Regions from separate parts of the Homo sapiens genome. Here regions 1, 2, 3, 4, 5 and 6 are each reported to be linked to region 7. Evidence: microRNA targets listed by miRTarBase, many of them from high-throughput screens and not tested one by one. Region 7 holds a microRNA gene; each other region holds the end of a gene's coding sequence.
Evidence for each region. The annotated mature microRNA hsa-miR-6875-3p reads AUUCUUCCUGCCCUGGCUCCAU and lies in region 7 at 1,929-1,950, shown strand. An mRNA with a match to its seed (bases 2 to 7 or 8) in the 3' UTR can be bound and repressed. Matches are read on the target gene's strand: a 7mer-m8 pairs with bases 2 to 8, a 7mer-A1 pairs with bases 2 to 7 and ends in A, and an 8mer does both.

Region 1: miRTarBase lists MOB3B as a target of hsa-miR-6875-3p. Seed matches in the 3' UTR shown: 8mer at 758-765, 7mer-m8 at 2,850-2,856, 7mer-A1 at 2,980-2,986 and 7mer-m8 at 4,216-4,222.
Region 2: miRTarBase lists RETSAT as a target of hsa-miR-6875-3p. The part of its 3' UTR that is shown has no 7-base or 8-base seed match.
Region 3: the mRNA of RBX1 is a reported target of hsa-miR-6875-3p. Seed matches in the 3' UTR shown: 7mer-m8 at 817-823.
Region 4: the mRNA of ARID2 is a reported target of hsa-miR-6875-3p. Seed matches in the 3' UTR shown: 7mer-A1 at 3,875-3,881 and 7mer-A1 at 2,978-2,984.
Region 5: the mRNA of NCKAP1L is a reported target of hsa-miR-6875-3p. Seed matches in the 3' UTR shown: 7mer-m8 at 3,561-3,567.
Region 6: the mRNA of FAM98B is a reported target of hsa-miR-6875-3p. Seed matches in the 3' UTR shown: 7mer-A1 at 2,217-2,223.

What each region holds. Positions count from the first base shown.
Region 1 is chr9:27,327,092-27,331,325 of GRCh38, reverse strand. MOB3B (MOB kinase activator 3B) reads left to right here. Exons shown (of 4, transcript NM_024761.5): 4 at 710-4,234. The coding sequence ends at 739. Among named protein-coding and RNA genes, the nearest start is that of EQTN, 32 kb to the right of the region's middle.
Region 2 is chr2:85,339,453-85,343,645 of GRCh38, reverse strand. RETSAT (retinol saturase) reads left to right here. Exons shown (of 11, transcript NM_017750.4): 10 at 1-7; 11 at 265-1,691. The coding sequence ends at 404. It also overlaps the pseudogene PEBP1P2. Among named protein-coding and RNA genes, the nearest start is that of RETSAT, 13 kb to the left of the region's middle.
Region 3 is chr22:40,972,095-40,976,328 of GRCh38, forward strand. It overlaps RBX1 (ring-box 1), which reads left to right. Exons shown (of 5, transcript NM_014248.4): 5 at 382-1,215. The coding sequence ends at 394. Among named protein-coding and RNA genes, the nearest start is that of RBX1, 23 kb to the left of the region's middle.
Region 4 is chr12:45,904,795-45,909,020 of GRCh38, reverse strand. ARID2 (AT-rich interaction domain 2) reads right to left here. Exons shown (of 21, transcript NM_152641.4): 21 at 984-4,087. The coding sequence ends at 3,943. Among named protein-coding and RNA genes, the nearest start is that of SCAF11, 84 kb to the left of the region's middle.
Region 5 is chr12:54,542,166-54,546,399 of GRCh38, reverse strand. NCKAP1L (NCK associated protein 1 like) reads right to left here. Exons shown (of 31, transcript NM_005337.5): 31 at 1-3,825. The coding sequence ends at 3,715. Among named protein-coding and RNA genes, the nearest start is that of PDE1B, 5.3 kb to the left of the region's middle.
Region 6 is chr15:38,483,949-38,488,182 of GRCh38, forward strand. FAM98B (family with sequence similarity 98 member B) reads left to right here. Exons shown (of 8, transcript NM_173611.4): 8 at 307-3,762. The coding sequence ends at 711. It overlaps RASGRP1 (RAS guanyl releasing protein 1), which reads right to left. Exons shown (of 17, transcript NM_005739.4): 17 at 4,155-4,234. Among named protein-coding and RNA genes, the nearest start is that of FAM98B, 32 kb to the left of the region's middle.
Region 7 is chr7:100,866,152-100,870,385 of GRCh38, forward strand. It overlaps MIR6875 (microRNA 6875), which reads left to right and starts at 1,885; the gene lies at 1,885-1,956. It overlaps SLC12A9 (solute carrier family 12 member 9), which reads left to right. Exons shown (of 14, transcript NM_020246.4): 14 at 1-859. The coding sequence ends at 454. It overlaps TRIP6 (thyroid hormone receptor interactor 6), which reads left to right and starts at 1,236. Exons shown (of 9, transcript NM_003302.3): 1 at 1,236-1,455; 2 at 1,710-1,837; 3 at 1,957-2,082; 4 at 2,344-2,715; 5 at 4,219-4,234. The coding sequence starts at 1,347. RefSeq lists silencers at 884-973, 1,334-1,483 and an enhancer at 1,924-2,023.

The DNA of each region.
Region 1 (4,234 bases), not on the chromosome of region 7:
TGGCAATTTGACAAATGAAGAGGGGCAGGCGCAGGATGTGGTAGCAGCGGACCATAGGCATGGGACTCAACCTGTGCGGAGCCCCAGGGGTAGAGAAAGGATGGCTATTCGGGATCTATAAATACCCACAAGAGCCAGGCAGGTGACGCATGTCAGACACTTTGGTGTATTATTCATTTCTATTTTTAAAAATGTCCTCCTTCCTGCTTTTCTTGACTTATACCCACTTATCCTTTATTTTTCCATCTTTGATTGAAACTTAAATCTTTCCCTACTCGAAGAAAACTAGCAGTCCAAATCCAATTACTGTATCAGTTCATAAGTGCTACATGGCTCCTGCTGGGAAGTCAGGTGGGAGTGGCAAGGACTGGGGCAAACTGGAGAGCAAATTCTTCTGCTGAAGAGGACAGCCATTCTTCAACTCCAGTTGTTCAGAAGCTCCAAATCTTGCAATTTCTCAGAAAAAGCAAGCAAGCAACCTGAATTTTGATACATGAGTCAAATTTTTAAACAGTGCCTTAATGGAAAAAAAAAATTCTGCAGAACAAACAGATGGAACATACCCTCATGCTAAGCCTTATTCATGGACCATGCTTGCAAGCTTTCATTTACAGGCTCTCGAGATTCCAAGAGCATTTTCAGGATCCTTCACCAAATCGTTGCTCTGCTTATAGTTTCTCCTAACCATCCTTTTCCCCTTGCTTTCCAGAAAGAAATGACGAGCAGGATGTGTCACTAATGCTCCACCTCACCCTTTGGAAGAAAGGAAAGCTGTTTCCTCCTGGTGCCCTGAGCGGGCAGGAGGTGGACCACCCTGGCTGAAATGACACACCTACTCCCAGGAACAGCAGAGGTGGAGGCAAGCAGTGACTCCTGAGAGACATTCCCCACTCACTTTGTGTGCTCTTAACCTTCTGAGTGCTGCTAGCCCAGACCTGTGGACGAGGCAGACCACAACGTGAAAGAAGGACCAGCCCCTTGACCGTTCTGGCTGGGGAATTGTCCACGAGGAAGCCTCTGCACTTCCACACATGGCACAGTTCTGCCTGTGACCTGCCGCCTAAGCTTTACTGGAATTCAGGTTTTGAGACTGAGATGCGTGTTCGTATTTTTCCACTTATCTGTCTTGTCAGCTGGCCGACTTCTCTGTGATTGGTTTTTTAAGTGCCGGGTGAATTTTGGACCTCTGGATGTGCAGCAAGTTTTTATGCAATAAGCCTTCCTTTCAGGTCTCTAAAAGCTCCTGCTCTGATCTGTGGTTTAACACTGTGCAGGGCTGTGGAGCTCTGAGACACCTGAACCCCTACCCATCCCCTGCACCTCCCTACTCTCCCTGCCGAGGCGTCCATAGCATTTCCCTAATAAATAGTTTTATCAGGGACACTCCATGGGGTGGCTTGTCTCTGCCCCAAACAGGGTCTTCACGTTCTAACTGCAGGGAAGAGACTGGTTACTAGCGTAAAGCTGACAAGTTACCAGTTCACCTGATCAGAATGTATTTTTTATAACCACCATCATTCCTTGTCTCTTCAGTGGAAGATATTCTTTCCTGTTTCCCAGAAGAGAGAAATAAAAGTCCTAAATAACTAAGAATGATCAGCGGGAGCGTTGGGCATGATTACTGCAGTGTTTGTTCTTTATTAAAGACAGGGAGTCGTGGCTGTCTCTACATAATACTAACATTTCAGTGAAAAAAGTACAATTGGTTATTTGGTACGTGTAGATTTAACACCCAGACGGCTGACTTGTAACCCTCCCCACTAGCCTTCTGAGCATTTAAACCCAGCCGTCATTCTCTCCCCACTCCACGCTCCCCACTCCTCTGCCACGTTATGTTACGGCACAAAATTAATTTCTGCCCCTGTGATTGGGCCACGGTTGCCAAGGTAACAGTGGAGCTGGAGCTAACTTCCTTCTTTCATCCTTTCCAATTTTTCTATTCCAGAAGACAGTCAGAATAATGCATTCTGTACTACATCCTGCCTTTTGAAACCTAAATGAGTTTTCGTTGATGAAATGTTGCCTTCTCTGATTCATTCACAAAACTGTGGTGGTTCTGACCACCTGTGACGAGGGGGGTCATAATACTTCCAGTGATCCTTTTAATTTAGCAAAATATTTGTCGGTGGAGGGAAGTAGATAAGAATGTATTAGTGTATTTTAAAGTAATAATGATTAAAGAATAACTAAATGACTCTGATTTTGTTTTATCAATCATAATGTGTTAAAGCCCTCTGTGGCTGCCACAAAAGACTAGAATCATGAAATCTTTGTCCAAGCTAAGAAAGGGCTGTCTCTGTGGGTACAGTGGCATTCTCTGTTGACCTAACCAAGCAGCCTGAACCTTGCTTTGTGTCTCGTAAAGGTCATCTCACGGAATCCAATTGCTGCTACCTCACCATGTTGCTGTGCCCTGGTCAACAATAAACATACTTTTGTCCCCCTTCCTAAGTAACTTTGAGAGGACAAGATAGGCAAAGTTTTTTCCCTACATCTCTTTTGGCCAAAAGAATATCTGACCATCACAGAGATCCAGAGAACAGAAACAAGAGCCCCTAAGTCCCAGCCTCTGCAATACACAGTTACCAGATGGGAATGCAGCACAGTGGCACAGAGAGGTAACTACGGAGCCCATGCCCTGGAGGAACTCTGTAGCTGTGCATCATGGAACGCCACAGGATTTTTACATTAAAAAGTTGAATATGTTCCTGCATTTCAGCAGTGCATAATCGAGCAGGAGGCTGGAATCTGGAGACCTTTGTTATTCATTCTTTTTAAGGTTATTTTTTATTAACTGTGCATATGAAATTTCCACTCAATTTAAAAATCCAAATCTTTTTAAGCTTCTTGGAAGAATTTCCTCCTGCTTATATTGTTAATTGCACTAATGAACTCTTCTAGGGTAAATTCTGGCAAACTACCCTTTTTTTTTTTTTAATCACAGAATATTCCTGTTCCCACAGAACTTTGGCACATTCTGAAGAAAATCTCTGCAGTCAATTTTTATCTCCTCTGCTTGACTGCATCTAACTGTTCATCTCTGTTATAAATGGAGCTTCAGCCCTCTGGGTCAGAGACTGACAACCCTCCTTCTTCTTCCTAACCTGTCCTACTCTCCTTCTTTTTCTGCTTTCATTTTAATTTTGGGAAATTTTAAAGTAAAAGTTTCAAAGTTGAAAGATTATAGTGAGTACCCTTATGTCCTTTAGTGCATCAGTTGTTAATGTTTTGCCTTGTTTTCTTTTCTTCCTTTTTTTTTTTTAAGAGAAGGGGTCTCTCCCTATTTTACCCAAGCTGGCCTTGAACCCCTTGCCTCAAGTGAGCTTCAACCTTAGCCTCCTGAGTAGCCAGGACTATGGCATGTACCACCGCACCTGCCTCACATTTTCTTTCTCACTGTAAATACACATTCTTATTCTTGAACCTTCTGAAAATAAGTTGCAGACATCATGAAAATGTAAAATACTTCATCATATTCTTTCTTTTAATAAGAGCATTGTCCTATAAATCTGCAATATTTTCACGCCCATGAAACTGAACACTGATACTGCATAAATCTAATATATGATCCATATTCAAAATTCTCCAGTTGTCCCCAAAATATCCTTTATAGCTGTTTATTTTTAAATCCAGGATCCAATCAAGAATTATACGTTATATGTAGTTGTCATTCTCTTTTGTTTCCTTTAATTGATTAGAGTTGCCCTTTTGTGTGTGTCTGAGTGGTGGGTGGTGGGGTGGTGTTTGTGTATGATGTGCAGTGTGTGTGTGTGTGGTGTGTCTTTCATGACACTGACATTATTAAAGAGTTCAGGCAAGTTTGTGGAATGTCCCACAATCTAGACTTTTTTACTGATTGTTTCCTCATTACGAGATACAGGTTACATTTTTTTTCCCAAGACTGCTACATGTGTGATGTTGTTTCCTTACTACTGCCTCACCTCAGGAAGCACATAATGTCTACTTGTCTCTTTTCTGATATTAGGACTGATCAGGTGTTGTCTGCCTGATCCAATCATTATCAAGTTCCATAATTCATTATTAAGCTCTGAAATTCAGGACACATACATTTATAGAGTGTGAGGCTGTGCATACGTACATTCATCCCTTAATGTTCTCAAGGAGGCCCAGGATCCCCAAAATATTATAAGCATTGCAGTCAGATGATATAGCACTAGCAAAGCATTCATCCCTTTCCATATAACAGGAGGGAGGGGAAGAAGGAAGTTTCCAT
Region 2 (4,193 bases), not on the chromosome of region 7:
CTGACAGGTATACTCACTGCCCCATGTTGTCAGGACCTGAGACCCTGGGCCCCTGTCGCCCAACGTCCTCTGTTCCTGCCCTCAGGCCCTGCTGTCCCCTGCAGCCTCCCATCCCCTGAGCAGGGCTGCCTGGGCAGGCTGTGGCCCCTGTCTGATTGGAGCCAGCTCTGGGTGGCCCTCATGTGGAGGGAAGAGCACCAAGGCCCCACCCTCCCCTGGGCCTGCCTGGGTGCACGCTCAGGGGCCTCTGCTCTTGCCTCCTAGGCCAGGATATCTTCACCTGTGGACTGGTCGGGGCCCTGCAAGGTGCCCTGCTGTGCAGCAGCGCCATCCTGAAGCGGAACTTGTACTCAGACCTTAAGAATCTTGATTCTAGGATCCGGGCACAGAAGAAAAAGAATTAGTTCCATCAGGGAGGAGTCAGAGGAATTTGCCCAATGGCTGGGGCATCTCCCTTGACTTACCCATAATGTCTTTCTGCATTAGTTCCTTGCACGTATAAAGCACTCTAATTTGGTTCTGATGCCTGAAGAGAGGCCTAGTTTAAATCACAATTCCGAATCTGGGGCAATGGAATCACTGCTTCCAGCTGGGGCAGGTGAGATCTTTACGCCTTTTATAACATGCCATCCCTACTAATAGGATATTGACTTGGATAGCTTGATGTCTCATGACGAGCGGCGCTCTGCATCCCTCACCCATGCCTCCTAACTCAGTGATCAAAGCGAATATTCCATCTGTGGATAGAACCCCTGGCAGTGTTGTCAGCTCAACCTGGTGGGTTCAGTTCTGTCCTGAGGCTTCTGCTCTCATTCATTTAGTGCTACGCTGCACAGTTCTACACTGTCAAGGGAAAAGGGAGACTAATGAGGCTTAACTCAAAACCTGGGCGTGGTTTTGGTTGCCATTCCATAGGTTTGGAGAGCTCTAGATCTCTTTTGTGCTGGGTTCAGTGGCTCTTCAGGGGACAGGAAATGCCTGTGTCTGGCCAGTGTGGTTCTGGAGCTTTGGGGTAACAGCAGGATCCATCAGTTAGTAGGGTGCATGTCAGATGATCATATCCAATTCATATGGAAGTCCCGGGTCTGTCTTCCTTATCATCGGGGTGGCAGCTGGTTCTCAATGTGCCAGCAGGGACTCAGTACCTGAGCCTCAATCAAGCCTTATCCACCAAATACACAGGGAAGGGTGATGCAGGGAAGGGTGACATCAGGAGTCAGGGCATGGACTGGTAAGATGAATACTTTGCTGGGCTGAAGCAGGCTGCAGGGCATTCCAGCCAAGGGCACAGCAGGGGACAGTGCAGGGAGGTGTGGGGTAAGGGAGGGAAGTCACATCAGAAAAGGGAAAGCCACGGAATGTGTGTGAAGCCCAGAAATGGCATTTGCAGTTAATTAGCACATGTGAGGGTTAGACAGGTAGGTGAATGCAAGCTCAAGGTTTGGAAAAATGACTTTTCAGTTATGTCTTTGGTATCAGACATACGAAAGGTCTCTTTGTAGTTCGTGTTAATGTAACATTAATAAATTTATTGATTCCATTGCTTTAACATTTGAAATTTATTTTGGTTTTTTGTTCAAGAAAACAAAACTATTATTGTGATGGCATTTGCAGAAGCTCAGTAAAACACTATATACTGAATAACACCAAAATAAGCTTTAAAAAAATAAAATTAAGTAATTATAAAGTTACAAAAAGTGGGGTCTGCGCCTTCCCAGGCCAGTGTGCTGAGCTCTCCATGTCGCTGTTGCCGCCCGCACCTGGCCTACCGCGGCACTCCCGGCTGCATGCTCTGCTTGGCCTTGCCATGCCGGTGGACCTCAGCAAGTGGTCCGGGCCCTTGAGCCTGCGAGAAATGGACGAGCGGTCACAGCACCTGCTGCATGTCACCTACGCCCGGGCGGTGGTGGACGAGCTGGGCAAAGTGCTGACGCCCACCCAGGTTAAGAATAGACCCACCAGCATTTAGTGGGATGGTCTTGATTCAGGGAAGCTCTACACCTTGGTCCTGACAGACCCTGATGCTCCCAGCAGGAAGGATCCCAAATACAGAGAATGGCATCATTTCCTGGTGGTCAACATGAAGGGCAATGACATCAGCAGTGACACACTCCTCTCCGATTATGTGGGCTCGGGGCCTCCCAAGGGCACAGGTCTCCACCGCTATGTCTGGCTGGTTTATGAGCAGGACAGGCCACTAAAGTGTGACGAGCCCATCCTCAGCAACCGATCTGGAGACCACCGTGGCAAATTTGAGGTGGTGTCCTTCCGTAAAAAGTACGAGCTCGGGGCCCCGGTGGCTGGCACGTGTTACCAGGCTGAGTGGGACGACTATGTGCCCAAACTGTACGAGCAACTCTCTGGGAACTAGTGGGTTAGCTTGGGGACCTGAACTGTTCTGGAGGCCCCAAGCCATGTTCCCCAGTTCAGTGTTGCATGTATAATAGGTTTCTCCTCTTCCTGCCCCCCTTGGCACAGGTGAGACCTGACCAGTCAGATGGTGGTTGAGGGTGACTTTTCCTGCTGCCTGGCCTTTATAATTTTACTCACTCACTCTGATTTATGTTTTGATCAAATTTGAACTTCATTTTGGGGGATATTTTGGTACTGTGATGGGGTCATCAAATTGTTAATCTGAAAATAGCAACCCAGAATGTAAAAAAGAAAAAACTAGGGGGAAAAAACCAGGTCTACAGTGATAGAGCAAAGCATCAAAGAATCTTTAAGGAAGGTTTTAAAAAAAAAAAGATTGGTTGCCTCTGCCTTTGTGATCCTGAGTCCAGAATGGTACACAATGTGTTTTTATGGTGATGTCACTCACCTAGACAACCAGAGGCTGGCATTGAGGCTAACCCCCAACACGGTGCATCTCAGATGCCTCAATAGGCATCAGTATGTCGCTCTGGTCCCTTTAAAGAGCAATCCTGGAAGAAGCAGGAGGGAGAGTGGCGCTGCTGTTGTTGGGACATGGCCATCTAGACCGGCAGCAGCGCTCGCTGACAGCTTGGGAGGAAACCTTAGATCGGTGTTTGTTAAACTGATCATTCTTCACGGGAGTAAGAAAAGCTGGTCTGGAGTTGCTGAACATTGCATTAATTGTGCTGTTTGCTTATAGTTGAATAAAAATAGAAACCTGAATGAAAAAAAAAGTTACAAAAAGTGGCCATCTACCGACTGGGCAAACAAAAAAGAACAGTTTCAACACTCAGTCATTTATTGCACATGGAGTCTGATGAATTAAAAGAATACCAATCAGAGTGTCCGGGGCTGGCGTGTTGGCAGTTTGAAGTACCATACAGCTCAGGGCTGGGTGCTTTGGCTCATGCCTGTAATCCCAGCACTCTGGGAGGCCAAGGCAGGTAGATTGCTTGAGCTCAGGAGTTCAAGACCAGTCTGAGCAACATGGCAAGACCCTGTCTCTATAGAAAGTCCCCACCCCACCCCCAGAAAAATTAGCTGGGCATGGTGGTGTGCCCCTGTAGTCCCAGCTATTCAGGAGGCTGAGGTGGGAGGATCACTTGAGCCCGGGAGGTGGAGGTTGCAGTGAGCCAAGATTGTGACACTGCACTCCAGCCTGAGCAAGAGAGTGGGACCCCGTCTCAAAACAAAACAAACAAAAAAGACCAAACATATAGCTCAGACCCAAACCCTTTACAGAGGAGTTTCTAAATTGGGAGATTTGGCTAAATACAATGGCTCATGTCTGTAATCCCAGTATTTTGGGAGGCTGAGGTGGGATGATTGTTTGAACCCAGGAGTTTGAGGCTGCAGTGAGCTGTGATCACTGCACTCCAGCCAGAGTGACAGAACGAGACCCTCCTCTAAAAAAACAAAACAAAACAAAACAAATAAACAAATTGGGAGATTTGGTAAATTCACACCTGACCTGTAGAACTACCTGAGTTGAGAGTCACCCTTGGCTCTGGATGTACCGTTTAATTGCAGCTAAAAATCTCTACCCAGGATTCCTACTGGAGCAAGTCACACCGAGCCCAACCTTCCTAGCAAGAGTTTTCACAGCGTTCTAGCTCTCATCACACTTGCAGCATTCTGCATCAGTTTACCCTGTACAGTCAAGCACAAAAGAAGACACCAGCATCACCAGCAGGGGAATTCTAGAGGTTTAGAATTCTATCAGCACATGTGTCACTAAAAGCCATTATGGGGGGACTATGTCAGAATATATGTAACTA
Region 3 (4,234 bases), not on the chromosome of region 7:
AGGGCAGCCCGAAAGTTCAAACTGTCTGAGCCCCTGTTGGGAGTGAGCAGGCGGAGCTCCCTTTCACAACCACCAATGACTTTTCCCTCTCACCTCCCTAATACCACCAGGCAGCTACTGGCACCTGTCAGGTGGGCATGGTTGAGTCAGAGGGAGAGCCTGTCCCTAAGAGGGGGCAGTAGGCAAGAAGTCCTGTAAGATGGGGAGGGGAAAGGGGAATCACAGCGACAGCCAAGCTAGTGTCAGTGTCGTCACCTAATCCTGGAGCACACTGTGATCACTTAGGTTCTAACTAAAGTTGCTTATGTGTTTAAGCAGGTTTTATGTCTCAAACAGGAAATTATCTTGGAATTAATCAGAGTAATTTACTTTGTCTTTCAGGTATGGGCACTAGGAAAAGACTTCTTCCATCAAGCTTAATTGTTTTGTTATTCATTTAATGACTTTCCCTGCTGTTACCTAATTACAAATTGGATGGAACTGTGTTTTTTTCTGCTTTGTTTTTTCAGTTTGCTGTTTCTGTAGCCATATTGTATTCTGTGTCAAATAAAGTCCAGTTGGATTCTGGAACGGATGCTCTCTCTTGTGTATGTGAACAAAGTGAACATAAATGAAGAGTCTCCCCTTCCAAGGCTGAAAACTCAGCTTTTGAAAGTGAAATGTTTGTTCATCGGGGCCAGAGCAGGGTTGTCCTCTGAGCGCATCACTTAGTGACGAGGAATCCAACAGCTCAAGGCAGAGTGTGGATCACCGGCTCCCGAAAACAGCAGTCAGCCCTTCTTTCTCCTGTGTGACAGCAGTGGGCAGCTGAAAGAGGGAAGAATGTGGGATTCAGTCATCAAACCCAGTTCTGAGTCCTGGTTCCACAGCTTGGGTACTGATGGCAATCTTGGCCAAGTTGTCTCTCTACTCTGAACTTTCCTCCTCTGTACTGTGGGCTTCTGAGGACTAAGTGGCATCATGTGGGCACAGAGAGAAGCTTTGTAAAATGTAAAACCGCTATACAAATGTGACCTTTGGTTGTGTATGACAGCAGTCCCCAACCTTTTTGCCACCAGGGATTGGTTTCATGGAAGACGATTTTTCCATGGACCGGGGGTGGGGCGGGGGTGTGCTTGGGGATGGTTTTGGAACTGTTCCACCTGAGATCATGAGGCAGTAGATGGACCGCGCAACCTAGATCCCTCACATGCACGGTTCGCCAATAGGGTTGAAGCTCCTATGAGAATCTAACGCTGCCGCTGATGTGACAGGCAGAGCTCAGGCGGTAATGCTCGGTCACCACCCTGCTCACCTCTTGCTGTACAGCCGGGTTCCTAGCAGGCCATGGACTGGCATCCACTCCGCAGCTCAAGGGTTAGGGAAGCCTGGTGTATGACATGTTGCTTTCTCTTCTTAGCTTAGAAAAATAAAGATATATATAATCTTGGCTGGCAAAGGGACAATTTAAGAACTCAAGTTAAAAATTGATATTGGCTGGGTATGGTGGCTCATGCCTATAATCAGGCGATTACAAGGTGAGGAGTTTGAGATCAGCCTGACCAACATGGTGAAACCCCGTCTCTACTAAAAATAAAAAAATTAGCCAGGCGTGGTGGTGTGCGCCTGTAATCTGAGCTACTCAGGAGGCTGAGGAGGAGAATCCCTTGAACCTGGGAGGCGGAGGTTGCAGTCAGCCGAGATCGCGCCATTGCACTCCAGCCTGGGCAACAAGAGCGAAACTCCGTCTCAAAGAAAAAAAAAAAAATCTTGGGAGATGGAAAGAATTGTCAGTTCTAATACTAATTCAATGGTTAATAATATAGACTTTTTAACTGAGAAGCAACATAGTTTGTTGCAGTGGTTCTCAAAGTATCATCTGAGGATTCCTGACAAGGGGGTACCTGAAACCCTTTCAGGGGGTTCATGAACCGCAAGTCTATGTGAAAGTTTTTCTTTATATTCAACCAAAGCAGCATATCTAATGAAGACACCGACTTAAGAATCCAGTGTCTTCTATTAAATCAGATGTAAAAGACATTAGCAAAAATACAAAAACAATGCTAGTCTCACTTTTTTTGTTTAAAAAAATAATTTTAATAAAAATATGCTCATAAGTGATGGGTTTTTATTCTTTTCAGTCATTTTTTTAAATTTCTGGGCTTTTTTTTTGTGGGGGGCGGGATTTGAGACATGGTCTTGCTCTGTCCCCAAGGCTGGAGTGCAGTGGTGAGATGACAGCTCACTGCAGCCCCAACCTGCTGAGTTCAAGTGATCTTCCAGCCTCAGCCTCCTAAGTAGCTGGGATTACATGCATGCACCACCATACCCAGCTAATTTTTTTTTTTTTTTTGAAAGTCTCGCTCTTGTCGCCCAGGCTGGAGTGCATTGGCACCATCTTAGCTCACTGCAACCTCCTTCTCTCGGGTTCAAGCGATTCTCCTGCCTCAGCCTCCCGAGGAGCTGGGATTACAGGTGCATGCCACCACGCCTGGCTAATTTTTGTATTTTTATTAGCAACGAGGTTTCGCCATGTTGGCCAGGCTAGCCTCAAACTCCTGACCTCAATCCACTCGCCTCGGCCTCCCAAAGTGCTGGGATTACAGATGTGAGCCACCCCGCCAGGCCCCACACTGAGCTAATTTTTAAATTTTGTGTAGCGTCTTGGCCGGGCATGGTAGCTCACACCTGTAATCCCAGCACTTTGGGAGGCCGAGGCGGGCGGATCACGAGGTCAGGAGATCGAGACCATCCTGGCTAACACGGTGAAACCCCGTCTCTACTAAAAATGCAAAAAATTAGCCGGGCGTGGTGGCGGGCGCCTGTAGTCCCAGCTGCTCGGGAGGCTGAGGCAGGAGAATGGCGTGAACCCGGGAGGCGGAGCTTGCAGTGAGCCGAGATCGTGCCACTGCACTCCAGCCTGGGCGACAGAGCGAGACTCCGTCTCAAAAAAAAAAAAAAAAAGAACTTCGGCCAGGCGCAGTGGCTCACGCCTGTAATCCCAGCACTTTGGGAGGCCGAGGTGGGTGGATCACAAGGTCAGGAGATCGAGACCATCCTGGCCAACATGGTGAAACCCCGTCTCTACTAAAATACAAAAAAATTAGCCGGGCATGGTGGTAGTCCCAGCTACTTGGGAGGCTGAGGCAGGGGAATCGCTTGAACCCGGGAGGTGGAGATTGCAGTGAGCCGAGATCGCACCACTGCACTCCAGCCTGGAGACAGAGTGAGACTCTGTCTCAAAAAAAAAAAAAAAAAAAAAAAAAAAAACACTTTAAAGTCTAACCTGGAACAAAACTGGCTCCCCCACTAAACTCACTAAACTACCACAGTACCTATTTTGTAGCAAGCACTCAAATGGAGGCAGCTGCTACTGTTCCTATTTGTATCATTTTGGGACTACCATCCTCAGCAGAAATTCCTTCTTTTAAACCCTTTCCAGGCAGCATTCAGACTGCATAAATACTTTCATTAATGAAGAACACATTGCTTTTTGCACAGATGACACATTACATATTTGCAGAATTCTGCTTGGGTTTTGATCAGAATTCTTTGTGTAAAGTACAGAAATCCAGCTTCTGCTTGGGCAAAAGGGAAATTTCTTGGAGGGCTATAGAGGTCTGCAATGCAACAGAAGAAAGGGCTGGAGACGCAGCTGGATCTAAGACTGAAGAGAAACAGGGAATCCATGCGGCTGGGATTCTCACTGCTTCTCTTTTTTATTTTTTTTATTTTTATTTTTGGAGACAGAGTTTTGCTCTGTCACCCAGGCTGGAGTCCAGTGGCGTGATCTCAGCTCACTGCAACCTGCACCTCCCAGGTTCAAGTGATTCTCCTGCCTCAACCTCCCGTGTGCCACCACGCCCGGCTAATTTTTGTATTTTTAGTAGAGGCGGGGTTTCACCATGTTAGCCGGGCTGTTCTCGAACTCCTGACCTCAGGCGATCTGCCCACCTCGGCCTCACAAAGTGCTGGGATTACAGGCGTGAGCCACCGCACCCGGCCCTCACTTCTTCTCTTTCACAGAGACCAGCTTCAGACATGACAGGAAATCTGTGGATGCCAAAGACTCTGCCACCTTTCCCACAGCTTCTGCCACAGGCAAGGGACCAACTCCAAGTTCTTTCCTTAAAAAATGAATTGGCTGGGCGCGGTGGCTCACGCCTGTAATCCCAACGCTTTGGGAGGCCAAGGTGAGAGGATCGCTTGAGCCCAGGAGTTTGAGACCAGCCTGGCAAATATGGCGAAACCTCGT
Region 4 (4,226 bases), not on the chromosome of region 7:
TTCAGCAAAGTATTAGTGACTAGTTTAAAACAGCACCTTAAATTTTGGAAACAATTTAAATGTCCATCGATATGGGGTCTAGTTAAATATAGTATACCCATACAATGGAAAACTATATTGTATAGCTGTAAGAAGGATGAGAAAGCTATGTACCAATATGGAATAAACTTAAAATATTAAAATTTCAAGAAAGTACGGCATATTATTTATGGTATGACATATTTTTGTGTAAAAAAGAGAAAATATTGAATTCACTTGTATGTAATCAACACCAGAGATGTACTCAAGAAATGTGAACAGTGGTTATCTGGTTGGGGGACACGGGTGGTGAAGCAGATGGGAATGAGGCTTTTCATATAATTTAACTTTTTGATTAAGTTACTTTCTAAAGGCAGTTTATGTTTTAAATAAATGTATACAATGTGGGTTGTATCTCAGACTAAAATCCACAGGAGCCAGGACTTGACTTAATAATAGCCTTTTCTTTTAATATTTAAATGTAGTCTTATTAATCAAAGTAAATGGATCTACTTAAGTATATGCCAGTGTGTCTTAGTGTTTCTTATCCACACACAAGGCAATCCTGGACTTAATTTTTACCAATAGGAAATGAGGCTATATAATTGAAATGAAAGAGTTACAAATACCAGTGTAGTAATGTAATTAGACAGTGGTACTGTCTTCATTTGTTTTGTTGCCTCTGGAGAAGGCTAGTGTAGTTGTCGTATGACTGACTGCTGTATGAGTCTGAGAAGAGTCAAGCAGTATGAAAGTGATCGGCTAAAATTTCCTAATAGATACTGGATTTTGTTCTCATTTAACTTACTATTTGGTAACAGTGACAGTGCCAGGTGTCCCACGTGGTTAACCCCATAGCTCCACTTCTGCTCTTTAGCAGCTTCTGCTTTGCATCATGTTTCCTCTGTTTGGTATTTAACAGCAGTGGTTAAGATCAGGACAGAAGTCACTTATCCAAAACATTCTCATTTTAAAAATCATTTTATTGTCATTTCATGGTTAAAAAAACATACATGACATGACTATAAAGTAATGAGACGAGTTCTCAGGTGTGGGTTGGATTACTGAGTCTCATTAATATATAGTCACAATCCTGACTTGAGCTTGGAAGAAAAATATGCCTTCGCTATATGATTATCAATTTTGTTACTTAAAATTTATTGAGTGCCAACAGAGCACTAGGCACATATATAACACAGAATTATACAGTCTCTATGTTGTAGACTATATTATTTACATAGATTTCTCAAAGATAACATTAAAGCATGTATTTACAGAACTTTAGACAAAAATAACAATACTGTAAATCAGCAAGTTTCTGTCTAGCAAGGAGCACCTTTTCATGAATGAGAGGGTTTTGCAGAACTTATTGTGCAAAAGCACTTTAATTCCATTACACAGCAAGTCCATATTATTATATAGTTCTATAAAGCTATAAGAAGAAAAACCTAAGTGGGAAGCCATGATCAGTTTCATTAGGTCAAACGCATTTAGGAAATTCTCTGCTGAGACTGAAGCTTAAAAGGCTACAGTCATATTTACATATTATAGCAGAAAAGCTAGAACTACAGCATGCAATTCAATGAGGTGGAAGAATGGTGAATATGAAAACCATTTTTCTAAACCTGCAGTTTGTTCTCTTTTCTATTAATTTAATTACCACTGCAGTTTCTGATTTTGAGAAGACATTATCTTTCAAATAAACGTTGTTGCACAAATTTACTTTTTAAAAGAGATTTTTGGATAAGTACGGTGAATAGAAAATTCCCCATATGATGTCAACTACCAGGTGCTTGTAAGTTTGAGGGCTCTGAAGGCCATCCTAGGGATACCCACATGATTTCAGCGGTGTCTGTTGGGCAGTGCCAGTCTTGGAAGGTGGGCCAAGCATAAATTCCACAACCTTATAACTAATATTAGATGAAGTTTCTCAAACATTCCTTTGAGACATGGCAGGACAGCGCCAGGGATCCTCCTTCAGGAAGAAACTAGATTTTACATTGGTACTAATTCAATCAAAATATTTAAAACATTTTTAATATGGAAACTGAGGCTTTTTCACTCTAAGAATCTGCCTCCAAATTCAAGCTGAAGATTTGGATACACTGTGATTCTGAATAAACAGTCAAGAAACACAACATCAAACAATAAAAGCTTTTAGCCAAATGTACAGTATCCAGTAAAAAAAGGCATATTGAGCTTTAACTGCATCAATCATTTGCTGTTCTCTACATTTGCTCTGCATTATAACAAGATGAAAAATAAATACTTGGTTAATCTGCTTATTTCATGCAAATTTGTCATGTAAAGGACCTCTCTTATTTGTTCTCTATTTAATATGTTATCAATCAACATATAATCAAATAGGTAGGTGACCGTTATACCTTGCCTTCAGCTGAATTTAGAATTCTCTCTATATTTTTAAGATGTCTTAAGCATACTCAGAAATGAAGGACTCAAGAAAATGTTCAGTCTTTTATTTAAAAACTATAAACAGTCACCAAAGTAAATAAAGCCATTCTATAACATAAACTGTTAGGTCTATATTTTTTACTGCACATCCTAAGGACACAGCAGAAATGGTGGTTGGGAGGCCTTCCACATTTTTGGATGCTAATAGAACAGGCAATAGGCAGTTATAAATGGATACATTTCACGCTGGGGGAAAAAAGACAATTTAAGGAAGTGAGCAGTTTCTGAGCAGGAATGTGGTACAGTATTAAGAATGGAAGAATAATACAATAAAATTCCACACTATATTAAGATAGAAAAAGTAGTGAAGAAAATATCATACCTGCACATAATGCATATATAACACAGGAGAAAACCTGTATAAAATTCCATGTATTTAAACCAATTTACAAATACAAAAAATTCTGTCCAAGCTCTGAGCTTGTACACGACAAACGTTTACAGTGGATACATGTTAAGGAAAACCAAAAAATACCTTCAAATAGTTTTTCTTCTAAAAAATGACATGAGATATATTATTCCATACTCTTTCAGCCAGCAAAATGAGTTCTACAAGGTGTATAATACAAAAAAAAAAAGAAAAAAAAAAAGAAAAAAGAAAAAAAAATCACAGTTCCACAAAACTGTTTTGACTTTACAGCATCAGTACCTTTGCAGAAGTATTTACACAAATTTAAAGAACATTCATCCACTGCATAGAATATATCACAATTACTTACAATTGACAGGAAAGTCTAGAAAACTTTAGAACCTACCAATAATGCTTCTAGGACACCACAGAATGTATTTCCAGTGGCTGCAGTGGCATGAAAGGTATTCATTCTATTCACAAATATTTACAAGATCTATTCAGACTGGTAAATTTTTATGATAATAAATAAGTGAAAATATATTGGCTCAAGTAAGAAAACCAAGCTACTGATTTCTAAACAAAACACACGATCCATAGCTAGATATTGGTGGCCCCCTCTGAGATCGGGGGTATAGGTGTGCTGAAACTTTTTTAAATTATTCAAACCAGCTTAAACGGTTTTGTAAATATAAAAATGTGCTCCTTTTTGGATATAGATAAAAATATTTAATGCTTCTATTTCATCTGCTCATGTAGGTTTTACAATATTCCATGTATATTCCAATGTGGATGGTACTGAATTCTGATCATACCAGTTTCCATCAGGATTTATCAGATCTGAAACATCCTGCAGATAAGCTGGTTGACAATCCCACAGCAGTTCTTTTTTTTTTTTCCTTTTTCTTTTTAGATTTTTTTAAACAGAGAACAAAGGGATTCACTCAGAGATCAGAATACGAAGCTTCCTCTCAGCATCATGGGAGGAGATAAAATAATTCATTCTATGGTCTTTGTTCCATTAAGACTTGGTGCTTTCTTCAGTAACAGTATGTGAAATGTGGCTGACTTTGAGTCCCCCACTGTGTAAGTGGAATTATTTTTCACTGCAGCATTTCTGAGTCTTTTTCTTGTTCCTTACTCTGAACTGTAAAATTAAGTTCATAAAGGCATTTGGCAAGGGTGGAGGAAGCTTCCATGTTACTAATGGCTAGCACTGATAAGTTATTTTCATGTCTCTTTAACAATCTGCAAAAAAACATATAGAAGATTGTCAGTCTCCAAGGTCACAGCGATGACTCTTTATCATGAATTTTGCAAGTTTAAAAACTAAAATAGAAACAATACATAGCTCCACACCCCGTAAATGTTAATATAGTATTGCAGG
Region 5 (4,234 bases), not on the chromosome of region 7:
GCCCTGGACCTTCTGCATTTTTTTTTTTTTTTTTTTTTGTGAGACAGGATCTTGCTCTGTCACCCAGACTGGAGTGCAATGGCATCATCTTCGCTCACTGCAACCTCTGCCTCCCGGACTCAAGCGATCCTCCCCACCTCAGCCTTCCAAGTAGCTAGGACTACAGGCAGGAACTACTACGCCCAGCTAATTTTCGTATTTTTTTGTAGAGACGGAGTTCGCCATGTTGACCAGGCTGGTCTTAACCTCCTTAGCTCAAGAGATCCACTGGCCTCAGCCTCCCAAAGTGTTGGGATTACAGACAACAGCCACCATGCCCAGCTAATTTTTTGTATTTTTGGAGAGACAGGGTTTCACTGTGTTGCCCAGAGTGGTCTCAAACTCCTGAGTTCAAGCGATCCGCCTGCCTCCCAAAGTGCTGGGATTACAGGGGTGAGCCACCACACCCAGTTCCTTCTGCACTTTGAAGCTGGCCCACCTGCCAACTGGATTGAACACCATGGCAGGGGAGGCAGTGTTTCTACTGTCCAAACAAAAGGGGGCACCTATGCAAGTATCTTGCCCCAGGCCTTGTGGGAGGCATAATTCCATCTCATTGCTGCAAGCAAGTTAATGGAGATGTTAATAAAAACACTACATTAATGAAAATGCTGAGGCTAGAACCTATTCTGTGCCTGTAAGACAAAACAATTGGGGTGAGATTTCTGATATCCATTCTTTAGTTCCTTTGGGCCTAAGTAAAGCAAACTTACAACCTGGGACACAACTTATTTTTTCCCAGGTTGTAAGAGGACAGAGACCCTCCTGGTAAAGGAAGCAAATTGCCTGAAATGCTGATGGGTCCTGTTACTTCTCTGTCCCTTCACCTCTGGACATTCACTTTTTGCTTCCGGTAGTAAAGGCCATCATGTCCTCACCTTCTCCAATTTGCTCCTTCTAAGGTCTCTGGATTCTAAAACCCAAGTCTTCCCTTGTGAAGAGGCAGACCGGGCAAGTAGAAAAGGTCTAGGACTGAACATCAGACTTGGGTCCCAGTTCTAGTTCTACTGCTAAACATGTGACCTTCATTAAGTCATTTAATATTTCTAAATCTGTTTTCTGACCTGAAATAGGAAAGCCTTCCCTGGCTACCTTGCAGAATTGCTATAAGGATGTGAAAGCACTTTGAAAAAGTATAAGTGGTAGAGAAATATGTGTGTATAATTATATGTTTACAAAAAGATATATCAAATGACAAAATTTTAGAAATAGAGAATATATCTGTGTTACCAGGAGCTAGAGATGGGGAAGGGGGTTGTGGGAGGAGAAAATTGCTATAAAATTGCTATAAAAGAGCAATGCGAGGGATCCTTGTGGTGATGGAACTGTTCTGTATCTTTTTTTAAATTATTATTTATTTTTTGAGACAGAGTCTCGCTCTGTCACTCAGCCTGGAATGCTGTGGCAGGATCTTAGCTTACTGCAACCTCCGCCTCCCGGGATCAAGTTATTCTGCTGCCTCAGCCTCCTGAGTAGTGGGACTACAGGCATGCACCACCACGCCCGGCTAGTTTTGGTATTTTTAGTAGAGACGGTGTTTCACTATATTGGCCAGGCTGCTCTCAAACCCCTGACCTCAGGTGATCCACCTGCCTTGGCCTCCCAAAGTGCTGGGATTACAGGCGTGAGCCACTGCGCCCGGCCTGTTCTGTATGTTGACTGCAGTGGCAGATACACAAACCTACACATGATAAAGCTGTATAGAAATAGATAACACACACACGTGCACACACAGAGAGAAATGAACATAAGCAAAACTGGGGAAGGAAATCTGAACAAGATCAGTAGATTATATCAATGTCAGTTATCCTGGTTGTGGCAGTGTACTACAGTTTTGCTAGATGTTAGCATTCAGGGAAACTGTGTAAAGGAAAATAGAATTTCTCTGTATGATTTCTTACAAGTGCAGGTGGATTAAGTATCTCAATAAAATTTTCAGTTTTAAAAAAAGGCATTCTGTCTACCCTCCATCCCCCTGCAGCAACTTGTCTTGCTGTCCTCTTAAGCAGTTCTATATGCAGATGCAGATGGAGGAGGGATCTCTATCCCCTCAAGCAGAAAAATATAAACATATAGAGTAGTTGTTCAGATACTTCTGAGCCTCCTCTTCCTCATCAACTTTACTCTCAGTCTCATAAGCCTGACACTGAATCACCCTTTAGAACATAAGCCCTTCCCATAGCAAGGAAGGAGGATTTGCTGATGCACGAAGCAGGATTCTCTATCGCTTCCACCCTAAAGAGCAGACAACTGTTGCTAAGAAAAATCTGTATGTTGATTATGGGTGCCAAGTTAAGAAAGTATTGACTAAGCCTGGGTCTCAAGAAATAAAAAGCAAACACATGTACAAAACCCCAAAACAGCTATCAAATAGGCTTCAGGAAGGCTGAATCGTTTTTGCTGAAAACCGACAACTGCTTCCCTTTCATCATGAAAGTATGGACATGACCCTAATTAACCAACTAGCTAATTATATTTGTCAATTCCAACCACTCTAGACCTGTGACATATATGATCTGTTTCTCCACTTCTCCCTGGCAGTGGATTCACAGAAGTGATGCATGGGGGCCACTATTTCCTGCCAAGGAGTTAAGTAAACCTAGTTTAGTGCTATCTTGAAAGCCCCCAGGCTCTGTGACGCTTGAAATTCTAATTAGCGCAGAAAAGGGCTAAGTTGAAACAGCTTGTACTCCCTCAAGGATACCCACTCTCAGGGCCATACAACCTAATGAGGTCTGTGAAATTTAAGATCCAGAAGAGAAATCCCTTCCTGGAGCAACAGCTATACCCAGGCTGACAAAAGGATTTGGGGTTAAATTAGTCCCTCCCAATAAAAGGCAGAGTACCCCCAAATGGTACAGGAGGGAAAACCCACCTAAGTCTGGGCCAATCAGTTGTCATGTAACCTAGAATTGACGGAGACTAACTGACCCTCTGCTCTGGGTTGTGGAGATATCAAAGCAGGAGGGGTTAAAGCAAGAGAGAACTTGTAACAAACAATGTAGTAGAGTAGGTGGGCAGTGAACATCTCTGAAGGGCACTTCCTCCTTGCCCCAGTAGGAAACGCAGTCAAGCTGGGGGCAAAGGAAGAGACCCAATGACCCCTCGAAGAGCCCCACAAAGGAAAAGAGGGGCTCCTTTGCTGCTACTCTGCAGTAGGAGCAGGTTGAATGTTTGCTGAACACATTTGAAAAAGGAAGAGAGAAGATAATGGTCCTAATGAATGTGCAGGAGACAATAGCAGCTCCAGTGGGAGGATTATAAGCTCATTATGATTTAATATGATGATTGATCATCTCTGCCCGCCAGCATTATCCTAAGAATAGTGATGAAGGTCGGAGAGGCCCATGCCTGTCAGAGCTCAAGCTCAAGTCACCAGAAGATAGAAAATATACTTGTACGTTACTCCTTTTTTCATTGTAAAATTCACACATGTGGCCCCACGCCCTAACTTTTTCCATAAGCTGTCCTCCATGCTCCCAGCCTGCCTCACTGCTCTACGATTTCTCAGCCCTGGATTGTTCTTCCACAGATCTGCTCATCAACTCTGGCTCCTGACCCTCTCTCCTTAGTGACCCCACCCCATTCCCACCCCCTGCGAAAGTGACCACAGCTTCCACTATGGCAAGGGTTTAGGAAGGTCCAAAGGGCTCTTCAGTGGGTACTGGCAGGCATTCAGTTTAGGTGGAAGGCCCGAGACACCTCCCGATAGGCATTTCGAAGCAGGACATAAGGGAAACAGGACTCCAGCATGTCCAGGGTCAGGAAGGATGACTCCTCCACCACCTGAAAGAGATGGGGCCAAGAGATGAGAACCTCAGGTAGGGCATTTGTCTGTGATACCCTGTTCCTTTTGCATAGTTCCCAGGCCCTCTGAGGCCCTGAGAGTTACAAGTGAACAGGGTTCCAAATCACACCCCCCTCTTCCCTCACTTGGTTTGGCTGCAGGAAGGCAATGTGGCATCTTCAGCTCCATTATCATTGACCCTGACCCCCTCATCAGGACTATGTGAAGGGCACAGAAGCAGACAGCAGGAGAGAACCACTTTCCCAGTGCAGCAAAACCCATTCTCTCCCATTCTGGATGCTAAATCACATGTGGGTGGGCAGCACACAGATGCAGGTAAAGATGTATAAAAGTGCTAATTACAAAGCTTTGCAGCAAGAGAAACAAACACCACTGCAGGCCACGGAA
Region 6 (4,234 bases), not on the chromosome of region 7:
TTTGTGTTGGAAACATTCAATATCCTCCTTGTAGCTATTTGAAACTATATATTAACTACAGTCATCATACAATGGTATAGAACACTAGAATTTATTACTTCTGTCTAGCCGTGATTTTGTATCCTTTAACAGATTTCTCCTTATCCTTCCACACTTAATATTTTTAATATTAATTTGTTCTGCCATGTCTGGTACTTTCATGTCCTTAAATATTGGCTTCTGTTTATTAGAAACAACATCACTTGAAACTTTTATGTAAACTTTTTTGAAATATTAGGAACTAAAAGAAAATGTTTCTTCACACAGGTGCTGATGGGAAGGGTGCCTGACAGGGGAGGCCGGCCGAATGAAATTGAACCACCACCTCCAGAAATGCCCCCTTGGCAAAAGAGACAAGAAGGCGGCGGTGGAAGGGGTGGTTGGGGTGGTGGTGGTGGAGGTGGTGGTAGAGGAGGTGGTGGGGGTGGGGGTGGGAGAGGTGGCTGGGGGGGTGGAGGAGGAGGTTGGGGAGGTGGTGGGGGAGGGGGAGGAGGGTGGGGGGGAGGAGGAGGAGGTGGTAGAGGAGGTTTCCAAGGCAGGGGAGATTATGGTGGAAGAGGGGGTTATGGTGGAAGAGGGGGCTATGGTGGAAGAGGCTATGGAGATCCATATGGAGGAGGTGGTGGTGGTGGTGGTGGTGGTGGTGGAGGAGGTGGATATAGAAGATACTAAAAACTATAAAAATTAGATAGCAGTGCTTGCTTCTTTATAGATACATTAGAAATAGTGTTCCAAATAACATACTTGAATATCATCTTTGAAGTAAACACCATGTTAGACTCCCTGGTGATACCACTCTTGAATTGGTTAATATGTAAGAACATTGTTTTTTATTACCAGTTGATCTCTCAAATGAAGTGATGACTTTTTCCATATTCTGTGTACCCTTGAGCATGTTGTGTCTTTTTAAAAAACAAAAAAAAGAACAAAAATTATTTTTTAAAATGTAAATATTTATTACCATCAGACTTGGAAAATGGAAAGTATTTTATTGTCATGATTGAATTTAGATTGTTACCTGTATTTTGTTCAGGTTTGAGACATATAAAAGACCCCACCTGTAATAGAAAGGAATATAGACCCTTGCCTCACCTGTATTGCTGTGGATGTGTTTTGTGGGTTTTTCATTCGATTTTACAAAATAGGGAAAGGCACTTCCAGTTGTATTTAGTAGGCAGTTGTTGTGAATCATTTTTTTCTCTTATAGGAGGAGATTCCTCTCTAGCCATGTTTCTGTTAAAGTTTCATTAATTGAAGCCCAAGTTTACTTTTTACTGTACATACTTATTTTCTAATTGGATTTGAAATCAGCATGATTTTGTTTGACAAAGCAAAGTTTAAGATTGAGGTCAGAAATACTTTAATGGAGCAAAGACACATACCAACTTTACATGACGGTGTGAGAAATAGTCCTATAAACTGGTCTCTTCATCATTTATGCTCTCACTTTAGATATCCAAATATTAAAAGGCAGGCTGACCTGTATCACACAGAATTAAGGCAGTAATTTTCTGCTTCAGTAGATCAAGGGTAGGGCTAAGGCATCCTGTGGTAATTCTGATTCACAGCTAGATTTGGGAAACACAAAGTTAGGGAATGGCTATATGTGATTTGCTAGTTGGAGCAGTCAAAGTCTTAGCTATCAAGAGTTGTGAATTTGAATCATGGCACTAGGTCAGGGGTGCTATGGATTGAAATGACCTTAGTTCTCAAGGAGTGATTTGTCCTCATTTGTCAAATGAGGAATGAGACACTTACCATCATCTCAGGTTGTTTCTTAAAGACCTAAATACAAATACAATTTGTTAAAAACTTACAGAGGGCCTATTTTGAATGCTTTAAGATGTAGGCCAAGTAATGTATTTTTCTCTTAGTGTAGAAAGTTAAGAGAAAAAGAGCTGGTACCATAAATTTTTTCAATCTTAGTGTAAAATCTGTATCTCATTGTAGGCTTCTGGTCAATACCTATACATAACAACTTAATGTGATCTAACCAACTCAACTGATAGAAAGCTGAATTGTTCCCAGTGGACAAGTGGTATTTGATGTTTAGCAGGTTTTTTTGTTGTTATTTTTTTGGTAAACTCTGTGGTAAAATCTAAAATAATGTTAAAACCCTAAAAGTAACTATTGAATATTCTGTAATCTTAGACATGTATTTTTCAAGCTAACCCTTTGAAGAAATGTGTTCAAGGTAGGAAAATATAAAATTTTTTGGTTATTTGTAAATTTATTTTTTGTGTGTTTATATTTAATGAAAAGATGTAATTTCATTTGTGATAGCTGAAAAAAAGGCTTTCCATAATTAAGAAAATACCTTTATCAGTAGCTATGAACTCTGAAAAATAATTTTTAAAAACTTTTAAGAAAAAAACTACTTGAGTAAAATATTTCAAGAGTTGTTTAAAAATCTTCTTTAAAACCTTTACATTTCTGCCTCACTTCTTTTTTGGTAGCATTAGTTGCTGATGAAGGAGATTTACAACTACTTTCAACTTTTTTACCACTAAAGGTTTATGGTAAATATGGCAGAAACAATAGTTTATCAGTTTCATTAGATTTTCCATAAGATTTCTTTGTACCTTTATAGGAGTGCTGCTTGGGTTATTCACTACAATCACTTATTTCCTATCAAAGTTTAGCACTTGCTCCTGGAATCGTGTTGGAGCTGAAACCACTCCTATGTACACATTCCTATAAACCTTAATTGAATGAAAAGCTGAATCAGGTAGACTCTTAATATTTTACTCTTTCCTGTAAGGTGGGATTTTCCTGATAATCTTTGTTCAGTAAAAATTTCTTTTGTAGAACAGTTTGCTGAGCAGTATCTGGAATAGCAGGAAGGAAATTTGGGGCCTTAATGGGAAAGGCCATAGTGTGAAAATGTTTTATAAATTGAGTGCAATACGACATGGAGTATGATGAATGGCACTCCACTGCTTCCTAAAATCCAACACTTTTTTTGATACCTCCTTTTCATTCTTTTTTGCCTGGTTCTCAATTTCATTTTTTAATTACCTCATTGTCCTTCCCCTTTTTTCTTCTCTTTTTGTCCAGCCTGGTACCTAATAGCAAATATAGACATGATCTTACTGGGAGTTTCTGCCTAAAGTAGTCATCTTTCCTCTCGACCGTATAAAGAGCATGTATTCTGTCTATAACATAATCACCACACTATTACTCATAAGCACACATCAAAAGGGAAACAAGGGTTTTCTTTGAACTTACTTTTGTTTTGCAGATCAGGGAAACCTTGCCTCATTAAACAGAAAAAGGAAAACATTTTAAATAAAAAACATCTTATTACCTGTATCTGTGACAAGAGGAGGCATGACAACCTAAAAAAAATTTGTGACCAGAAAAATGTCCTGAGCAGTGATACTATCTATACCTTGGAAGGAGCACAGGTTAGAGAAATGTGGGGATGAAAATTGGGGAAGGTGAGCAGGCAGTTTAATCTTGCCTTCAGGATCAGGCTGTCAGTGTGACTTTATTACTTTGTATGAAGTATTATGAATTGCCCAAATGATAAATACACCCCCATCTAAATGTTCCAGAATGCATTCCACAGAGGAATTTGAGTGACTGAAATTTTTCCTCTTTCTTCATTGGTGTGGTTAAACAAAAATTAGCTGGGGATTAAGGGAAAATTGTGGCTATGTCTGATCATTCTAAATAATCATGACCACAAATAAATTGCCCTGAGTAGGTCTGTAACCTGGATTGAGCTGTCGTTACCAATTTTATCCATAGCTTCAAAGGATTTCTTCTTTACATGCTAGTTTGCTTAGATGAAACTGTGGAATTAAAAGCCACAGAGAAGGGACAACCTCAAGTCTGTCTCCTTTAATGTTAAGTATTTATAGACTTAATATTTGGGGACCACTGTAAGTTATGAATAAGATGGAAAGAGATTGAATATTTCTGTAGTGTTACTTCTTCGTGTTGTAAAAAGATGTAGAAAATTTTAAACTGAATAGCTGCTTTGCCTTTCCTTCCAGGAAAACTCAATTTGATTAATAGAATAGGGCAGTGGTCTTAGCTGTGGAATATAGGAAAAATTCAGGTAAAGTGTTTACGGGGTCACGAAGCAGAAGAAACACAAGACATTTGTGTTGTAGGGATCCTAATGTCTTTTATCATATAAATATTACACAAAGAAAACTTACATTAGGTATCAAAAAACTTTACAATC
Region 7 (4,234 bases):
CCGGCTCCGGATCTTCCTGTGCCTGGGGCCTCGGGAGGCGCCTGGGGCGGCCGAGGGGCGGCTGCGGGCACTGCTGAGCCAACTGAGGATCCGGGCTGAGGTGCAGGAGGTGGTGTGGGGCGAGGGGGCCGGGGCTGGGGAACCCGAGGCGGAGGAGGAAGGGGACTTTGTGAACAGTGGGCGGGGAGACGCAGAGGCAGAGGCCCTGGCACGCAGCGCCAACGCCCTGGTTCGGGCCCAGCAGGGGCGCGGCACAGGAGGAGGGCCGGGTGGGCCGGAGGGTGGGGATGCTGAGGGCCCCATCACAGCCCTCACCTTCCTGTACTTGCCTCGGCCGCCAGCCGATCCCGCCCGATACCCCCGCTACCTGGCGCTACTGGAGACTCTAACCCGAGACCTGGGCCCCACGCTGCTGGTTCATGGGGTCACTCCAGTCACCTGCACTGATCTGTGATGCCCCTGCCTCCAGGGCTAGGTAGAGAGGGCCCAGGCAGGCGGCCTATCCTGATCCTTGGAGGAGGAGGAAGAGGAGGCCACTGTGGCCCGTGGCCCTGCCCTTGGGACGTGGAGCCCAGGGGAGGTTTGAAGGGGATCCTGGGCTTGGGCATCACGCCCACCTCCTTTGGCAGAGGGACCCCAGCACACTAACTCTGGGTGGCTGTCCCCACCGTGCAGGGGAGGGAGTCCGCAGCCTCCCTTCACTGGTGCCTTGATGCTAGGGGCCAGGCCTCCTCTGTGACTCTGGGCTACCTCAGTTTCCCCATTTTGGCCAGACTCACCGGCCCACTGGGGTGGTGATGTTTTCGTTCTGTTTTATTTTTCTAACTCTGCTGACCATGAATAAAAGACCAAAACACTACAGGCTGGCTGAGCAGTGCTGGTGGGTAGCTGAGAGGGAGGGGGTGGGAATGGAGAGCTCTGCAGAGGGGTGGAGATCGGAGCCTTCAGCCTCCCGCCGCGAGGCTGCCACGTGCAGGGCTGGGGTGCGGGGCCCGGACGCATCCGTGGACTTGGAGGCTGGCTCGGGCCCGCACCTCCCATCCCCAGCTGCCCGCAACCCCCAGTGACTCGGGATCCCCCGGAGAGCCCTCCCCTCTCGGCAGGAGGGGGCTGACTCAGGGAGAAATGGCAGTTTAGGGCCTAGGGGGCCACGTGACCCTCCCCCAGGAATGTGGTGACGTCATCGGAGGCGTGGTCGTCCCCAAAATTAGGGAGGAAGAGGAAAAAAAAAAGCCAGAAAAAGTTTTCTTTTCTGGAGTCCCAAACGAGGTGCGGGACGGAAGAGGGGGTGAAGGCCAGAGGCTCGGGGCTTCAAGACCGCTGTCTGGAGTCCCCCTTTCCAGGCCATGTCGGGGCCCACCTGGCTGCCCCCGAAGCAGCCGGAGCCCGCCAGAGCCCCTCAGGGGAGGGCGATCCCCCGCGGCACCCCGGGGCCACCACCGGCCCACGGAGCAGGTAAGGCAGCCCTTGTGAGACAGAAGAGCCACCCAGCTGTGGCGCTCACCTCTGTCCTACCGCTCCAGCCTCCCGCCCTGGCTGCTTCCTCCTGCCCCTTCCCCAAGCCGAGGCGGGGGGAACAGCCGCCTGCGCTCTCTTGGGACCCTAGATTTGGGGGAGGAGGTAACGAGAGGCGGAGAGGGTGGCTCCTCAAATATACACCCCTCCTGTCCTCCGCCACCCCACCTTTGATTTCTCTTCCCTCAACCCAGCACTCCAGCCCCACCCCAGGGTCAATTTTTGCCCCCTTCCATCTGAGCAGTGTTACCAGGCCCCAGGGGGACCGGAGGATCGGGGGCCGGCGTGGGTGGGGTCCCATGGAGTACTCCAGCACACGCAGGTGAGACCCGGGATCGTGGGGTGGGACATGTGGGATCCCCCAGAACCGAGTCTGAGGGACCCAGGACAGGAGAAGGCCTATGGTGATTTGCATTCTTCCTGCCCTGGCTCCATCCTCAGGGGCTCCCTGCAGACAGGGGGGGCCTTCGCCCTGGAAGCCTGGACGCCGAGATAGACTTGCTGAGCAGCACGCTGGCCGAGCTGAATGGGGGTCGGGGTCATGCGTCACGGCGACCAGACCGACAGGTGACTCTGCCCCTCCTCCCCGTCAGCACCCTGCCCCCTTCTCTGGACTCTCAGACCCAGCCTGATCGATCCCCCATGTGTGTAATGTGCACCCCAGCATGGAGGAAGCGTGGCTGCAAGTACCAACATGTCAGCCACTTGAGGACGGGACCTTGTCAAATGCAAAAAGCCTGTGCTTCCCCACAGCCAGGGTCATTTCCACAAATGTGGGTCTTGGAGTGGGGTCCTTGCTTACGACTTCTGGCCTGCGTTTCTCCTCAGGCATATGAGCCCCCGCCACCTCCTGCCTACCGCACGGGCTCCCTGAAGCCAAATCCAGCCTCGCCGCTCCCAGCGTCTCCCTATGGGGGCCCCACTCCAGCCTCTTACACTACCGCCAGCACCCCGGCTGGCCCAGCCTTCCCCGTGCAAGTGAAGGTGGCACAGCCAGTGAGGGGCTGCGGCCCACCCAGGCGGGGAGCCTCTCAGGCCTCTGGGCCCCTCCCGGGCCCCCACTTTCCTCTCCCAGGCCGAGGTGAAGTCTGGGGGCCTGGCTATAGGAGCCAGAGAGAGCCAGGGCCAGGGGCCAAAGAGGAAGCTGCTGGGGTCTCTGGCCCTGCAGGAAGAGGAAGAGGAGGCGAGCACGGGCCCCAGGTGAGCCCTGGGGAACTGGGATTTCAGGCCCTACAGACAATGGGACACCGACTGGGTGGGGTGGCTGGTGGTGTTTTAGGGGGCTTTTTTGTTTTTTGAGACAGAGTTTTGCTCTTGTTTGCCCAGGCTGGGGTGCAGTGGTGCCATCTTGGCTCACTGCAACCTCTGCCTCCCGGGTTCAAGTGATTCTCCTGCCTCAGCCTCCTGAATAACTGGATTACAGGCACACGCTGCCACGCTTGGTTAATTTTTGTATTTTTAGTACAGACGGGGTTTCACTAAAACCCCAGTTTGTTGGCCAGGCTGGTCTCGAACTCCCGACCTCAGGTGATCCGCCTGCCTCAGCCTCCCAAAGTGCTGGGATTGCAGGCCTGAGCCACCGCGCCTGGCCAAGGGGCTGGTTTTGGAGCAGAGTCAGAGGTCTGGGACGTGGAATAGGTAAGGGCAGGGCAGTGCGGGGGAGCAGGATAGAACTGCCCATTGGGGCTGAGCGCGGTGGCTCATGCCTGTAATCCCAGCACTTTGGGAGGCTGAGGTGGGTGGATCACCTGAGGTCACGAGTTCGAGACCACACTGACCAACATGGAGAAACCTCGTCTCTACTAAAAATACAAAATTAGCCAGGCATGGTGGCACATGCCTGTAATCCCAGCTACTCGGGAGGTTGAGGCAGGAGAATCACTTGAACCTGGGAGGTGGAGGTTGCGGTGAGCCGAGATCGCACCACTGCTCTCCAACCTGGGCAACAAGAGCAAAACTCTGTCTCAAAAAAAAAAAAAAAAAAAAAAAAGAACTGCCTACGGGCCCCTGGGCTGAGATGTTCTCAGATGAGCTTTCTAGCTGGAACTGCCTGGCCACCTTCAGAGACATTATAGCAGTCCCCAATCTTTTTGGCACCAGGGACCAGTTTTGGGGAAAACAATTTTTCCATGGACTGGGGAGGGGGATGGGAGGGGGTGGGAGGGGGATGGTTTCAGGATGATTCAAGCACATTACATTCATTGTGCACTTTATTTCTGTTATAATAATAATAGAATATATAGTATATATAATTGTTTCGGTATATATTACAATGTATATTACAATGTAATATATACCGAAACAATTATACAATTCACCATCATGTAGGATCAGTGGGAGCCCTGAGCTTGTTTTCCTGCAACTGGACAGTCCCATCTGGGGGTGATGGGAGACAGTGACAGATCATCAGGCATTAGATTCTCATAAGGAGCTTGCAACCTACATCCTTCGAACACACAGTTCACAATAGGGTTCATGCTCCTATGAGAATCTAACGCCGCTGCTGATCTGACAGGAGGTGGAGCTCAGGCGGTAATGCAAGTGATGGGGAGCAGCTGTAAATACAGATGAAGCTTTGCTTGCCCATTGCTCAGCTCCTGCTGTGTGGCCCAGTTCCTAACAGGCCATGGCCTGGCGGCTGAGGGCCCTGGTATTACAGCATCAGGAGCTAGAGTAGGACCGAGCCCGATTCCCACCTTCCAGGTGCCCCTGAGCCAGC